Linked DNA regions of Homo sapiens: all the other regions are linked to region 2. The links come from fine-mapping of genetic effects on gene expression. A gene starts in region 2. Each other region holds a variant in brackets. All regions are shown on one strand. Distances are from middle to middle.

Evidence for each region. PIP is the estimated chance that this variant, and not a neighbour inherited with it, causes the effect. A credible set is the group of variants that fine-mapping cannot tell apart.
Region 1: its variant is the best candidate, but not a certain one, in a credible set for the expression of SUGP2 in unexposed skin (GTEx, PIP 0.76).
Region 3: its variant is the best candidate, but not a certain one, in a credible set for the expression of SUGP2 in lymphoblastoid cells (TwinsUK, PIP 0.81).

Annotation. Positions count from the first base shown.
Region 1 is chr19:18,990,964-18,996,403 of GRCh38, forward strand. SUGP2 (SURP and G-patch domain containing 2) reads right to left here. Exons shown (of 11, transcript NM_001017392.5): 9 at 4,181-4,317; 10 at 3,403-3,523; 11 at 1-2,777. The coding sequence ends at 3,403. Among named protein-coding and RNA genes, the nearest start is that of SUGP2, 40 kb to the right of the region's middle. The variant C/A (reference allele first, on the strand shown) is at 3,071.
Region 2 is chr19:19,031,035-19,036,474 of GRCh38, forward strand. It overlaps SUGP2 (SURP and G-patch domain containing 2), which reads right to left and starts at 2,483. Exons shown (of 11, transcript NM_001017392.5): 1 at 2,403-2,483; 2 at 1-48. The coding sequence starts at 37. It overlaps ARMC6 (armadillo repeat containing 6), which reads left to right and starts at 2,569. Exons shown (of 9, transcript NM_001199196.2): 1 at 2,569-2,896; 2 at 3,097-3,204. The coding sequence starts at 3,176. RefSeq lists an enhancer at 1,215-1,716 and silencers at 1,643-1,722, 2,143-2,572.
Region 3 is chr19:19,765,455-19,770,894 of GRCh38, forward strand. All of the region lies in intron 1 of LINC00663 (long intergenic non-protein coding RNA 663), which reads right to left. Among named protein-coding and RNA genes, the nearest start is that of LINC00663, 8.2 kb to the right of the region's middle. The variant CAA/C (reference allele first, on the strand shown) is at 2,356.

The sequences.
Region 1 (5,440 bases), 40 kb before region 2:
CAGAAACAAAAGAAAACTTCCATTTTGTAACATCACAAATGTCTTCTAGGCTTTATCAAGGACCAAAAACACTACAATTCTCTAAGTGATTTCCAGTGATGGAAACAAGCCAGAGACAGTAAAGCACCCAGAGTGGCGAGAGAGCACTTCCAGATGCCTGTTGTCCTCTCGGGGGTGACCCTGGAACTAGAACGACAGAAAAGACACTGTGACTTTGACACGGCTGTGCCACCACACATCACGCGCGACACGAGGATCCTGCAGAGCGGCCTCTGCAGAGAGCAAGGACAGCCTCGGTTAAGAGGGAGGGGCTGGGGGCACGGAGGGCCAGTGGCATCTCCTCTATCCCGGCTGGCCGGCAGCTGGCAGCACGCACCATGCTCTGCTGGCTCCCGACACCTTCACTGCCCCAGCGCTGAATCCACAGGAGAGGTGTCCTCTGAGAGTGTAGGGGGCTTTCTAGGTTCAAGGAGATGTGCCCTTTGACCCCTGCCAAGGACTCACAGAACCATCTCAGCTCAAACTTGGAGGAGCGGCAGGAGGTGGGGGGCGGTCAGTGGCCACACGCCACAGATTCCTAAAGCATTTAACTTTTTAATAAAATGAAGTGGAGAAAGTCAAGAATGAACATGCTAGGACAAAGCACATGGAATGGTCAGGGCGATGCTGGAGAGAGTGCGCTTGATCCACGCTGCAGGTGTGTGCGCCTCGCTCGGGTCAATGGGCTGAGCCCCGCTTGGAGCTCCATCCATTCACCTGACCCATGGCCAACATGGAAGCTGTCGGAGGGGTCAGGAAAGGAGAAGGAGAAAGGAGAAGATGAACCCCCCGCACCTGTGACTCCCCAAAACCAGCTCCACTCCAGGCCCCCACAGGCTGGTTCGTTCGAGGGTTGGGTTATAAACCCAAACTCCATCCTCCATGCTGGCACCTCTACTGCCATAAAGATCTGCCAGTTGCCAAAGCTACAGAAGCCACTGGAAGCAAGCAGAGCCCCTGGGGGTGGTGGCACTGCAAGGTGACAGGGACCAGGCAGACAAGGAGCTGGGACCACAGCCTAGGAAGTCTGTGGCTTAAAGAAAGCCAGGATTTCCTTTTTTTTTTTTGAGACAGAGTCTCGCTCTGTTGCCAGGCTGGAGTGCGGTGGCACAATCTCGGCTCACTGCAACCTCCGCCTCCCGGGTTCAAGTGATTCTCCTGCCTCAGCCTCCTGAGTAGCTGGGACTACAAGCGCCCGCCACCACGCCCAGCTAATTTTTTGCATTTTTAGTAGAGACAGGGTTTCACCATGTTGGCCAGGATGGTCTCGATCTCTTGACCTCGTGATCCACCTGCCTCGGCCTCCCAAAGTGCTGGAATTATAGGCGTGAGTCACCGTGCCGGCCTTTTTTTTTTTTTTTTTTGGAGATGGAGTCTTGCTCTGTCGCCCAGGCTGGAGTGGAGTGGCATGATCTCAGCTCACTGCAACCTCTGCCTCCCCGGTTCAAGTGATTCTCCTGCCTCAGCCTCCTGAGTAGCTGGGATTACAGGTGCCCGCTACCACGCCTGGCTAATTTTTTTGTATTTTTAGTAGAGACGGGGTTACACCATGTTGGCCAGGCTGGTCTCAAACTCCTGACCTCAGGTGATCCATCCGCCTCAACCTCCTAAAGTGCTGGGATTACAGGCTTGAGCCACTGTGCCTGGCCCAAAGCCAGGATTTCTTTACAGCCAATACAAGTGGCATTTCCCGCTCAGTTCTGTGGCTGATGCCCTAGCCACTGCTGTGTCCCCTAATCCTGGGGTGTCAGAGGGATCCTAAGTTTTCCAGATTTTTGCCCATACTTAAAACTTCAACGATCCTGCTTCACAAGGAAGGATGAGTGGAGAATTGAGTGGAGTTACACGCAGCAGAGTGCTGGGGAATCTGGAGAGCGGGGGCGATCACATGCCTGGAAATAGAGCAGCTGCAGAGCCCACCCCAGGAGGAGCCTGCCTCTCCTTACAAAGGCTGTAATAAGACAGCACTTGACGATGCCATACGTGCGAAAAGTGCAGAGTCTCAGAGGGTTTACAACCCCCATCCCTTTGTAACTGTAGTTTGCTTACACTGTGGATTCTAAAGAGACATGTAAATCTGGGGCCGATTTCATCTGTTTAATGATTACTCCCCACCCGATAGAGCTATTCTATACTGTTGCTAAAATTTCATTAAGTCTCTCAAGATGCATTGATGAGATGAGACACCATGAATAACACATTCATCAACTCAAGTATGGCAACTGTTCAGAGAGCTTCAGAGCTTTGGTACCCGAGTGCAGACTTGGTAATTACCGGGAATTTGTCTCCCCCGTATAAATTCTGGCGAACAACGAGAAAACACCATCTGTGATCGTTTCCACATCACGTTTGCTAACAGAGCACTTCTGGAGAGCAATGGCCAGTCCAACTGGAAAATCAGCCAGAGGAGCTGGTTCCTCAGCACTCACAGGCTGAGGTGCCTTTCGGGGGCAGCGCCACCTTCTGAAGGGGAACCAAGACAGATTTGGAGGGGACTTGCTGCTAAAAGCATGTGAACAGAGAGGAGAGGCAAAAGCACATTGAAAATGGTGCATGTTTTTTTCTTTGAGAGAAAGAAAAGCCAGCGAAACCTCCGCCCCAGAGACTGCAGAGACGTTTGTTTTCATGTACACACCAAACCGTACTTGGGCACTGGCTCCAGGCCGATCCAGGGCAGGGATGATGTTTTAAGGGCAATTGCTGCTTCAAGGCTTATCTTTCACATCAGTGGTTTTGATCTATTCAGGAAGAGAACGATTTTGTTCAAAACTGAGGTGGAAATTAGGTGAGGGGGCAACTAAAAAAAAAAAAGAATAGAAAGATGAGGATATTTACAGGCCCAAGGCCCTGCAGAAGGAAAAGGATTTGAAGACCCTCACAAAGGGACACAGCCAACTGCCATCCTCTGTGGCAGTGGCTGTCACAGTCGCCCTTCCACTTGCATGATGGCAAGGCCCTCTGGACTAGGAACAGTCCGTTTGCTGGTCATGTTATGTGGTAGGTGGCTGTCATCTGTGAGAGAAAACTTGAG[C/A]AAGAGAAGAGACAGGCGTGGCCTATTTCCACACGCACATCCACGGAGGCTGGCCTGGAGGCCTTGAGGGGCTCACAGCCGGGGCACCAGGCAGGCCATGCGCATCTGCCCTTGGCCAGTGTGAGGTTTGCTCCTTCAGCAAACCTGGAAGGTAAGAATGGGGCATATCCACATCCATAGACCCTTTTGTTTCCCTCACAGAATTTTGTGATTTTTTTTGTGTGTGGCATTTTTGGGGGAGCAGGGAACATCAACTTTGTTGGGGGAAATTTCTCTGCATACCAGCACGCCAGCGAGGGCAGACGGCCTTACACACTGGCCTGTGAACATACCTATTTGTTGGCCCGCTTGTGTCTGTACATCTGCATCATCCTCTGTCGGAACACATCGAATGTGTCTTCTTTGTGCTCCTGCCCGTCAGCACCCAACCCTTCCCCTTCCGAGGGGGTTCCCCTAGGGAGTGAAAAAGAGAGTCAGTTGTGCACCTGAGCCCAGGGCCTGGCATGCCAGGAACTGGGCATGGGCACAAACAGTCCATGAGATGCAGGTGTTTGGGACACACACTGAGACATCAAAGAAAGGGAAAATCAAGACGCGACTCACAGTAGAAACAAGGAGTACTCACCCTCGAAGAGCTGGCTTTTGAGGGGGTGCCCAGAGGGCCCTGGTTACCTCGGAATGCCTTACCCAGCAGGAACTAAGCTCAGTATTAAATGAAATGCCTGCTGGAGGTTATGATCGGGGTTTAATAAACTTTGGGCCTGTGTTCGGGACCCTGGCTGGCCCGGCTATGGGTTCCCGGGAATGGGAAAGCAGTTCCAGACGGAAACTACACAGAAATACCACTTAGCTTTTATGATGGTCACAAATGTGGCCAAAATGACCAGGGCCAACAAGCTGGTTAAAAAATCTACACCAGGACAGAAAGGAGCCCTGTAAACACCTGCACATGTAAATGATCAGCTTCTCATCTGAAGATGCCTTCTGTTTAAAAAACAAAAATCAACTGCCAGCTGTAAGCCATCTTGGCTGTGAAGGAGCCAAGCGGCAGGCTGCAGGTGGAAGGACTGAGGCCCCACCCACTCCCACCCCAGGCTGCCTGCTGCGTACACGCTGACCGGCTCCCTGATGCCCTTTCCGAGGGAGCCCAGGCCATGGCCCTCCTTCCAGCCCATCTTCTGCAGCATCTGGAAGCCCAGGTTCTTATCGGTCAGCTTCTGCTGGGCGAAGTCCAAGTCCTTGGGTTTCTGAGGAGAGAGGAGAGTCCAGGCATGTGGGCCACAGGGAGATGCCTGGATCAAGGGTCTGTCCTAGGCTATGCCTGGAGCCCCTCACCCCCAAATGCCCTCCTGACTCCCCAGATGCTCAGGCTCAAGCTCCAGTCACTTCCCCAGTTCTCTGCAACATCCCTGGGTGGGATGGAACTTCTAAGTCAGAGGTCACTGGCCTGAGGTCAGTCGTGCCTCTCAGCTACCACTATAACCCTGGTGCCAAGACTGTGAGGAAAACTGGGTAAGGGAATGGCCAGTCCCGGGGTCAAGGAGTCAGTAGGAAGGCCCTCAGCGGAACCCTGGATAAAGAAGGGTGGCCCTGTGATGACCACAGGGCGCAGCCCAGGGAAGAGTGGGGGGCACCAGGGCACAGGCCTGCAGGCAGGATGGGGGCCAGACAGTGGGTGAGAACTGGCTGGCAGCACCCTCCCTGAACCACCCCAACATACCCCTCCCCGAGTGCTTCATTCACTCCCTGGCTGCATTGTCTGTCTGTCCTCAGGACTGAGTTCTACTTGGACATTGGGGTCTGTGTCTAGCACAGAGCAGACCTCACTGAGAGCTAGTACAGCTGTTGATTGCTCCTGTGGGTGGTGGGGAAGTGCAGCAATCTCTGGGCCACTAGATGGAGATCTGGAGACAGACAGGGCCCTGGGGCCTCTGGAGGAGGAGCCTGCAGGGCTGTAGCAGAAGGAATTTCTATTCACTCATGAATATTCATGACACACTGCTGTGTGACAGAGCCCAGCTGGGCAGTCCAAGACCTTGCCATGTATTCCTTGGCTCTTCACGAGTCAACTTGTGTGGGTGGGCTGGGCGTGGTGGCTCATGCCTGTAATCTCAGCAGTTTGGGAGGCCGAGGTGGGTGGATCACTGGAGGTCAGGAGTTCCAGACCAGCCTGGCCAACGTGGCAAAACCCCGTCTCTACTAAAATACAAAAATTAGCCAGGCATGGTGGCAGGCACCTGTAATCCCAGCTACTTGTGAGGCGGAGGCATGAGAATCGCCTGAACCTGGGAGGCAGAGGTTGCAGTGAGCGGAGACCGTGCCACTGCATTCCAGCCTGGGCAACACAATGAGACTGTCTAAAAAAAGAAA
Region 2 (5,440 bases):
CATCAAAAGTCTCCTGTGTAATTCGTCTGGCTGCCATGTTATTTTGCCCTATGGTGAGAGAGAAAAAAATACACTAAGAGCAACAACTTGGAGCTGGGCGCGGTGGCTCATACCTGTAATCCTGGCACTTTGGGAGGTCGAGGTGGGCGGATCACCTGAGCTCAGGAGTTCGAGACCAGCCTAGGCAACATGATGAAACTAAAATACAAAAAATTCAGGCTGGGTGTGGTGGCTCACACCTGTAATCCCAGGACTTTGGGAGGCTGAGGTGAGCGGATCATTTAAAGTCAGGAGTTGGAGACCAGCCTGGCCAACATGGCAAAACCCTGTCTCTACTAAAAATACAAAAATTAGCCGGGCATGGTGGTGCCTGCCTTTAATCCCAGCTACTTGGGAGGCTGTGGCAAGAGAATTGCTTGAACCCAGGAGGCGGAGGTTGCAGTGGGCCGAGATCATGCCACTGCACTCCAGCATGGGTAACAGAGTGAGACTCCGTCTCAAAAAAAAAAAAAAAAAAATTTCACCAGGCATGGTGGCACGTGCCTGTAATCCCAAATACTCAGGAGGCTGAGGCATGGGAATTGCTTGAACCAGGGAGACAGAGGTTGCAGTGAGCCGAGATCATGCCACTGCCCTCCAGACTGGGGGACAGAGCGAGACTGTCTCAAAGAAAAAAAAAATGCGTGCTCACAGAACCTGCTCTATTTCACTTAATCCTCGAAGTAAGGAGGCAGTAATCCATAATCCTCGCATGGTACTTCAGAGGCAAGCTGGACCCTTTTTATTTATCTTTTTTTTTTTTTTTTTTAAGTAGAGACAGGGTTTTGCTAGGTTGGCCAGGCTGGTCTCGAACTCCTGACCTCAAGCAATCTGCCCACCTTGTCTGGACTCTTTTAAGGGGGTCTCTGCCCTCACGAAGTTCACAGGTGTGTGCTGGCTGAAAAGGAGCAAGACAAACCTTCTCTGGGCCCATCTCCTTGGAATCCATTAAAAGCAGCTCTGTGAAAGCAGTTCTATCTGCTGGAGGAAGGTGTCAACCAACACACATAACTGAGCATAACAGAGTAGGAAGGGTGGGACCACAACCCTCGCAAATCGTGGTTAGGAAAGAAGAGATCAATCTTTTTTTTTTTTTTCTTCCTTTTTTTGAGACTCTCCCTGTTGCCCAGGCTGGAGTGCAGTGGCATGATCTCGGCTAACTGCAACCTCCGCCTCCTGGACTCAAGCAATTCTCCTGCCTCAGCCTCCTGAGTAGCTGGGATTACAGGAGTCCGCCACCGCATCCGACTAATTTTTATATTTTAGGTAGAGATGGAGTTTCACCATGTTGGCCAGGCTGGTCTTGAATTCCTGACCTCAAGTGATTCGCCCGCTTCGGCCTCCCAAAGTGCTGGGATTCCAGGCCGTGAGCCACTGCGCCTGGCCCAGGATCACTCTTTTCCCATTCACAGACTCAGCAGGGCACAGAGGCTCTGAGAACTTCCTTCCCTTCTAAAAGAAGCCTCTTGACAGTGAGTGGCGGGACCCCCAACCAATGACAATGAACTAGTGACAGTTCATTCTGCGCTGGGTCCTTGCGCGATCTCCCAACCACCCACTGAAGAGGCGGGTCCTGTTATGAATGACATTAGGGTGAGGAGGCAAAGGGAGACAGACTCAACGACCCATTCAAGACCAGACAGCCCAGATTTGAACCTGGCAAAAAGGGTATTCGTGCATCCAAAGCCCCGAAGAATGAGTAAAAAGATTAAGCAACATTTTGGGGTCCAGGGGCTGCATCCTTAACCATCAAGATATCCCGCTTCGCAAAACCTCCAACTTCAAGAGACAACCCGTAGGGTCCATTTCCCATCACGATCACCGCCTCCCCCACCCGCCTCCCCCAGTCCCATCCTTCAGCCCTTTTCCCGGGGCGCCCCCTTGTTCTCTGCTGGCAAAGGGCAGGGTTCCCGGGTCAGGTGACCCAGGTTCAAATCACACGATTCTAAGCTTTCTGTGCTTCCGTTTCCCCACCTATGGAATGGGCAGCCAGTAAAGGGGCTGGTGTGGGGGCTGAACCGGTTCTAAAGAGGGCAAGGGCCCGATGCAGCGCTGGGCGCCGTTATCTCCTCCCGAGCGGGGGCCGCTCCGAGTTCGGGAGGAATGAATGAACGACTGAACCAATGAGCCTTTGTGGACGCGGCCCGCCGTCTCCCGGCCTCTGCGGGCGAGGAAATGGGGGCGCCGGGCCCGGGAGGCCGCAGCCGGCCACCCAGGCCAACCCGGCGGGGACGCGGCCGCCGCCGCAGCCAGAGGGCCGAGCCTGCGACGCCATCACGGAGCCCGGGGCGGGCCCCCAAGGCCGAGCCCGAGCTTCCCACCCCGGGAGCCACCCACCGACGACGCCAGGGCCCGGGCCTCACCCCGAGACCACCGCGCGCGGAGCCACCCCCGCCGCCGCCTCAGGCTCCTCACCCGCCGCCGCCGCCGCGCGAGGCGGGGACATGCAAATGAACCAACGGTCTCCGCAGCGCCGCGCCGCGCAGGCGCAAGCCGCCGCCGAGTCCTGGTGCGCAGGCGCGGGCCGCCGCGGCCCGGCTCTCTTGCGCAAGCGCGCTGTCCGCTTCTTCTGGGCGGACGCTCTGGAGGCAAAACATTTCCCTGCTGGGGGCGGCGACCACCGTGAGCGTCCCGGAAGGGGCGGCAAAGACGCCTCCGTCGCGCACGAGGTGGCCTCGTTGGCTTTACCTTGGTTCGCGGTCGTCCTTGGTTATCGTGAGCGTCCGCGAGTCTCTGGGAGGCCAAGCCTAGGGGCGCCACAGCGCCTGCGCGCGTACGGCGGCCGGAAGGGGCTAGAGGCGGCTCCCTGGGTGACAACCGCGCGCCCCACCTTTCCCCACGTGGCCGCGAAGACCGGGTGAGACGCTGCGGCTGCCGAGGCCTGTCCCGCGCGGAGTGGGGAGTGGGGGTGCCGCAGGGTCGGGCTGGCGCGACCCTCGGGTACGTGGTTTGGGGGGAAAAAAAAAATGAAAGAATTTTACAGAAGCCGCCTGGGGACAAAATCCTCGGCTTCCCTGGCATTCGCTTTATTTTCATTCATTTTATTTATTCATTCAGCACCTGTGCACTGAGTGCCTGCTGCGTGTCGGGCCCCGTCCTAGGCAGTGGGGACAAGGAGGCTACAGGGTACAAATAAATGAGTGAACGATGTTGCTCTAGATACAGGTAATGGTGTGCAAATAATAACAGAGTGATGGGACGGGAAAGCAGGGCTGCTCTTTATCTAGAAGTGGTTTTGAAGGCTGTCTCTTGAGTGCTGGGAAGGATGAGAAAGGCGGGGAAGAGGAACTTGGAAGGCTTAGATAGAGAAGGTGCGGATAAGGAGGCTGGGTTTTGTTCTGAGAGGGTTGGGAAGCCACTACCGGGCTTTGAGCACGTGAGTGAGGTGGAGTCTAGGCTCTGGGAGTGGCAGGTGACGCCGCCCTTAGGGGAGGCTGGTGTTTGAACCAGAGTGGGTGTGGCTGGTAGAGGGACATGTGGATGGAGTCTTTTAGAGTCCCCAGCATGTCATGGCACACGTTTAATTTTCTTTTGAGACGGAGTCTTTCTCTGTCGCCCAGGCTAGAGTGTAGTGGCATGATCTTGACTCACTGCAACCTCCACCTCCCGGGTTCAAGGGCTTCCCCTGCCTCAGCCTCCCGAGTAGCTGGGACTACAGGTGCGCAACACCGCACCTGGCTAAATTTTGTATTTTTTTTTTTTTTGAAACGGAGTCAAAAGGAGTTCAAGCGATCTCCTGCCTCAGCCTCCTGAGTAGCTGGGATTACCGGTGTGCACTATCTTGCCTGGCCTTTTTTTTTTTTTTTGAGACGGAGTCTCGTTCTGTCACCCAGGCTGGAGTGCAGTGGCGCAATCTCAGCTCACTGCAAGCTCCGTCTCCTGGGTTCAGGCCATTCTCCTGCCTCAGCCTCCCGAGTAGCTGGAAATACAGGCACCCGCCACCACGCCCGGCTAGTTTTTTTGTATTTTTTTAGTAGAGACGGGGTTTCACCGTGTTAGCCAGGATGGTCTTGATCTCCTGACCTCATGATCCGCCCGCTTCGGCCTCCCAAAGTGCTGGGATTACAGGCGTGAGCCACCGTGCCCGGCCCTGGCTAATTTTTTGTATTTTCAGTAGAGACAGGATTTTGCTATGTTGGCCAGGCTGTTCTCAAACTCCTGACCTCAAGTGATCTACCCGCCTCAGACTCCCAAAGCGCTGGGATTATAGGCCTGAGCCACCGCACCTGGACAGCACAGTTTTCTTGATGAGCAGATTCCTGGCTGAGAGAAGGAAACTGGCTGCCAGTTAGGGGCCTTACTCATCTTCTGTTTTACCCTCAGCATGCCCTGATGGATAATAGGGACTGGTAATGCTGCTTCCCCCTTTTAGCCTAGGCTGTTCTCCAGGTAATTCTTACTTGGCCATCTCCAGGCACCATCTTATGTGTTCCAAATCTGTACTTTCCTCCTCCAACTCAGCCCTGTACCAGATCTAGGGGACCTTGGAGGACTCAGGTCAGGGGTGGTCACAGAGCCAGACCTTCCCAACTCAGTCAGCTCAGGGGTGGGTGGAAGGGAGGGGTTGTGGGTTGGGGAGTGAAGCCAGAGAGTGTGGGCTCTCTGAGTGGCCAGGAAAGGCAGCCACCTGGAAGGGCTGGCAGAAGCTCCACAGAGGACTGAGAATCCGAAGTATTTGAGACAGGTGTCAATCAGTTAGAAAGCTTATTTTGCCAAGGTTAAGGACATGTCTGTGACACAGCCTCAGGAGGTCCTGACAACATGTACCCAAGGTGGTTGGGGCACAGCTTGCTTTTATACATTTTAGGGAGACGTGAGATATAAATGAATATGTGTAAGATGGTCACAGGTAGAGACAAATGATTGCTTTCTTTTGAGTCTTTGGTCAGCCTTTCACAGAATACACGATTTATATGGGGTACAGGGCAGGTAGAGGAATAGTCATTTATGCCTCAGTCCGACTCATGAATCTGAGGTTTTGTTTCTTGTTTTTTGTTTTATTTTTTGAGATAGAGTCTCGCTCTGTCGCCCAGGCTGGAGTGCAATGGCGCAATCTTGGCTCACTGCAACCTCCACCTCCCGGGTTCAAGCAATTCTCTTGCCTCAGCCTCCTGAGTAGCTAGGATTACAGGCGCCCACTACCACGCCCAGTTAATTTTTATATTTTTAGTAGAGACGGGGTTTCGCCATGTTGGTCAGGCTGGTCTCGAATTCCTGACCTCAGGTGATCCACCGGTGTCAGCCTCCCAAAATGCTGGGATTACAGGCATGAGCCACGGAGCCAGGCCAAATCTGCATTTTTACATAAACGTTAGGGCAGAGAGAGCAACTGGATATGCATTTGTCTCAGGTGATGACTTTCTGTCCTGCACTTGTGAAGATCACCTGTCAATTTACATTG
Region 3 (5,440 bases), 730 kb after region 2:
TGATTTCAAAACATTAGAAAGCAATGCCATCAAAACAAGATAGTACTGGCATAAAAACAGACATAAAGAACAATGGAACAGAATGGAGAGTCCCAGAATAAATCTAATATATGCATACAATCAACTGATCTTCAACAAGGGTGCCAAAAATACACAACAGAGAAATGAGAGTCTTTTAAGTAAATAGTGCTGGAAAAATTGGATCTCTATATGCAAAAGGATAAATGTGGACTCTTACTTCATACCATATTAAAAATTAACTTAAAATGGATTAAATATTTAAACATAAGACCTGAAAACATAAAATGGCTAGAAAAAAAATATGGAAAAATTTTCAGAACTTTGGACATTGAGATGCTTTTTTTTAAATTAGACTTCAAAAGAACAGGCAACAGGCCGGGTGTGGTGGCTCACACCTATAATCCCAGCATTTTGGGAGGCTGAGGCAGGCGGATCACCTGAGGTCAGGAGTTGGAGACCAGTCTGGCCAACATGGCAAAACCCCATCTCTACTAAATCTATTTTAAAGATTATTTGGGTGTGGTGGTGCACTCCTGTAGTTCTGGCTACTCAGGAGGCTGAGGCAGAACTGCTTGAACCTGGGAGGCAGAGGTTGCAGTGAGCCAAAATTGCATCACTGCACTCTAGCCTGGGCAACAGAATGAGACCCTGTCTCAAAAAAACAAAATAGTAAGACAAAGAACAGGCAATAAAATCAGGACAGACAAGTGGGACTACCTCGAATAGAAAAACTTCTGAACAAAGGACAAATTCAACAAATGAAAAGGCAACTTAAGGAATGAGAAAAAAATAGTTGCCAATAATATATCTGATAAAGGGTTAATATCCAAAAATACAAGGAATTTCTACAACTCAATAGCAAACCCCAAATAACAAGATTAATAAATGAGTAATGACCTAAATAAACATTTCTCCAAAGAAGACATAAGAATGGCCACAGGTATATTTTAAAAAATGCTCCGTGTCATTAAATGTCAGTCAAATGCAAATTTAAGTCACAGTGAGGCATCACCTCACTCTTGTGAGGACAGGTATATTAAAAACAAACAAGCGTGCTAAAGTTATGAAGATACTGGAACTTTTGTACACAGCTGGCAGGAATTAAAATTGGCAGCAACAATGGAAAACAACATACAGTTGTCTCAAAAAGTTAAAAACAGAATTATAGGTCGGGTGTGGTGGCTCATGCCTGTAATCCCAGCACTTTGGGAGGCCGAGGTGGGAGGATCACTTGAGGTCAGGAGTTCAAAACCAGCCTGGCCAACATGGTGAAACCCTGTCTCTACTAAAAATACAAAAAAAAAGTAGCTGTGAGTGGTGGTGCGCACCTGTAATCCCAGCTACTCGGGAGGCTGAGACAGGAGAATTGCTTGAACCCGGGAGGCAGAGGTTGCAGTGAGCTGAGATCGCACCACTGCACTAAAGCCTGAGTGACAGAGTGAGACTCCGTCTCGAAAAAAAAAAAAATTACAGTTTGATTCATTAAACTCAATTCTGGGGATACATCCAAAGGGAATATAATTTGGATCTTGAAGAGCTACATAGTTCTGTGTCTATTACAGCATTATTCACAATAGCCAAGATATGGAAGCCACCTAAATGTCCATGAAGGATACATGAATGTGTCAAGTAAAGGTAGTATATACATGCAATAGAATATTAGCCTTAAAAAGGGAGTAAATCTTTTCTTTTCTTTTTTTTTTGAGATGGAGTCTCTGTCACCCAGGCTGGAGTGCAGTGGCGCGATCCTGGCTTACTGCAACCTCTGCCTCCTGGGTTCACACCATTCTCCTGCCTCAGCCTCCCGAGTAGCTGGGACTACAGGCGCCCACCACCATGCCTGGCTAATCTTTTGTATTTTTAGTAGAGACGGGGTTTCACCGTGTTAGCCAGAATGGTCTCGATCTCCCAAACTCAGCTGATCAGCCTGCCTCGGCCTCCCAAAGTGCTGGGATTACAGGCGTGAGCCACCGCGCCCGGCCAGTAAATCTTTTCATTTGTGACAACATGAATGTACCTGAAGGATACTAAGGTACACATTAAGGCACGATTGAAAGAAGCCAGACATAGAAAGACAAATACATCATGATCTCACATACATGTGAAATATGAAGTAATTATACGTGTAGAGGCAGAGAGTAGAATGGTGTTTTCCAGAAGCTGAGCTGAAAGAAAAACGGGGGTTGGGGGGATACAAAGTTTCAGTTACCCAAAATGAACAAACTGGTCTGGATAGTGGTTTTTTTTTTTTTTTTTTTTAGTAAAACCATAAAAGCTCAGGCAACGAAAACAAAAACAAATGGGGTTATATCAACCCAAAATGCTTCTGCATAG[CAA/C]AAAAAAAAAAAAAAAAAAAAAAAAAATTAACAAGGTAAAGAGAAAAGCTACAGAATGGCAGAAAGTATTTTCAAAATACCCACCCAATAAGGTATTAATAACCAGAATATACAAAGAACTCAAATGACTTAATAGCAAAAAACAAACAAAAAAAGAATCTAAATTTAAAATGGGAAAGGATCTAACCAGATACTTCTCAGCCAGGTGCAGTGGCTCACGCCTATAATCCCAACACTCTGGGAAGCTGAGGCGGGTGGATCACTGGAGCTCAGGAGGTCAAGACCAGCCTGGGCATCATTTTTTGTAGAGGTGAAATACCACCTCTACAAAAAATTCGCTGGGTATGGTGGTGCACACCTATAGTCCCAGCAACTTGGGAGTCTGGGATGGGAGGATGGCTTGAGCCTGGGGAGGTTGAGGCTGCAGTGAGCTGTGATTATGCCACTGCACTCTAGCGTTGGTGACAGAGAGACACTGTCTCAAAAAAACCCCAAAAAACAAAAAGCAAACCCAACAACAGACTCCTGTCTTCAGCCAAAAAGACCAGGAAAGACACCTTATCAAACAAAACTTTTATCCAATGTGCCTTCTATGCTGGGATAAAATGAGGGTAGATACAATAGGCTTTCTTTCCCTTTTGTGTTTTATAAATTGTATTTGAATATCAAGGAACAATTGAAACATTGTTAACTACGATAATTTCTGAATATAATGTAATACGTTGATCTAACACTAAAAAAGCTATACTCAAAAACACTACAAATAAATGAAATTTTAAAACATGTTCAAATTATCTACATGAAGAAAGTAAAAATCACACAGAGGAACAAAACAGAGAGAACAAACAGAAAACAACGTATCAGGCTAGTTTTAACAAAATTAACTTAACTGTTAAATGTTCTGAATTAACCAAGTAGATCTCCGCTGACACACAACAAAAACATGCTGGCCAAAGTGGATGAGGTGAAGTTCACAATCAACACCCAAATGAAGAAGGTGCTATGTCTGGCTGTGGCTGTCAGCCACGTGAAGATGACAGACGATGTTACACACAGACGATGTGTGTAACATTCACCTGGCTGTAAACTTCCTGATGTCACTGCTCACGGAAAACCGGCAGAATGTCCGGCCCTTATATAACAAGAGCACCACCGGCAAGCCCTAGCACCTGTATTAAGGCACATTTGAATAAATTCTACTGCCACCAGTCAAAAATAAATAAATAAAATAAAATAATCAATTAGAGACAAAGATTGAAAACATTGATTTTTTTTTTTTTTTTGAGACGGAATCTCCTCTGTCGCCCAGGCTGGAGTGCAGTGGCGAGATCTTGGCTTACTGCAAGCTCCGCCTCCCAGGTTCACGCCATTCTCCTGCCTCAGCCTCCCGAGTAGCTGGCACTACAGGTGCCCGCCACCACGCCCGGCTATTTTTTATGTATTTTTAGTAGAGACGGGGTTTCACCGTGTTAGCCAGGATGGTCTCGATCTTCTGACTTCGTGATCCGCACGCCTCAGCCTCCCAAAGTGCTGGGATTACAGGCGTGAGCCACTGTTCCCGGCCTGACAACACTGATTAATAAATATGACCATGCATATTCTCTTTAGAAGAAACTCACTTCCAATATAAAAAGGTAAATTTAGAATAAGCCCTCTCCCTCTCCCCCTCCCCCTCCCTCTCCCCTTTGCACGGTCCTCGTCTCCCCTTTGCACAGTCTCCCTCTGATGCGGAGCCGAGGCTGGACGGTACTGCCGCCATCTCGGCTCACTGCAGCCTCCCTGCCTGATTCTCCTGCCTCAGCCTGCCGAGTGCCTGCGATTGCAGGCGCGCGCCGCCACACCTGATGGTTTTCGTATTTTTTGGTGGAGACGGGGTTTCGCCGTGTTGGCCGGGCTGGTCTCCAGCTCCTGACTGCGAGTGGTCTGCCACCCTCGGCCTCCCGAGGTGCCGGGATTGCAGACGGGGTCTCGCTCACTCAGTGCTCAATGTTGCCCAGGCTGGAGTGCAGTGGCGTGATCTCGGATCGCTACAACCTCCACCTCCCAACTGCCTGCCTTGGCCTCCCAAAGTGCCGAGATTGCAGCCTCTGCCCGGCCGCCACCCCGTCTAGGAAGTGAGGAGCGTCTCTGCCTGGCCGCCCATCGTCTGGGATGTGAGGAGCCCCTCTGCCCGGCCGCCCAGTCTGGGAAGTGAGGAGTGCCTCTTCCCGGCCATCATCCCGTCTAGGAAGTGAGGAGCGTCTCTGTCTGGCCGCCCATCATCTGGGATGTGGGGAGCACCTCTGCCCTGCCGCCCCATCTGAGATGTGAAGAGTGCCTCTGCCCGGCCGCGACCCCGTCTGGGAACTGAGGAGTGTCTCTGCCCCGCCGCCACCCCATCTGGGAGGTGAGGAGCGTCCCTGCCCGGCCGCCCCGTCTGAGAAGTGAGGAGCCCCTCCGCCCGGCAGCCGCCCCATCTGGGAAGTGGGGGGCAGCTCCCGTCCGGCCAGCCGCCCCGTCCGGGAGGTGTACCCAACAGCTCATTGAGAACGGGCCATGATGACAATGGCGGTTTTGTCGAATAGAAAAGGGGGAAATGTGGGGAAAAGAAAGAGAGATCAGATTGTTATTGTGTTTGTGTAGAAAGAAGTAGACATAGGAGACTCCATTTTGTTCTGTACTAGGAAAAATTCTTCTGCCTTGGGATGCTGTTAATCTATAACCTTACCCCCAACCCCGTGCTCTCTGAAACAGGTGCTGTGTCCACTAAGGGTTAAATGGATTAAGGGCGGTGCAAGTTGTGCTTTGTTAAACAGATGCTTGAAGGCAGCATGCTCTAAGAATCATCACCACTCCCTAATCTCAACTACCCAGGGACACAAACACTGTGGAAGGCGGCAGGGCCCTCTGCCTAGGAAAACCAGAGACCTTTGTTCACTTGTTTATCTGCTGACCTTCCCTCCACTATTGTCCTATGACCCTGCCAAATCCCCCTCTCCGAGAAACACTCAAGAATGATCAATAAATACTAAAAAAAAAAAAAAAAAAAAAAAAAAAAAGCAGAATAAAATCAGAAAAAAAAAGGTAAATTTAAAGTATAAGAA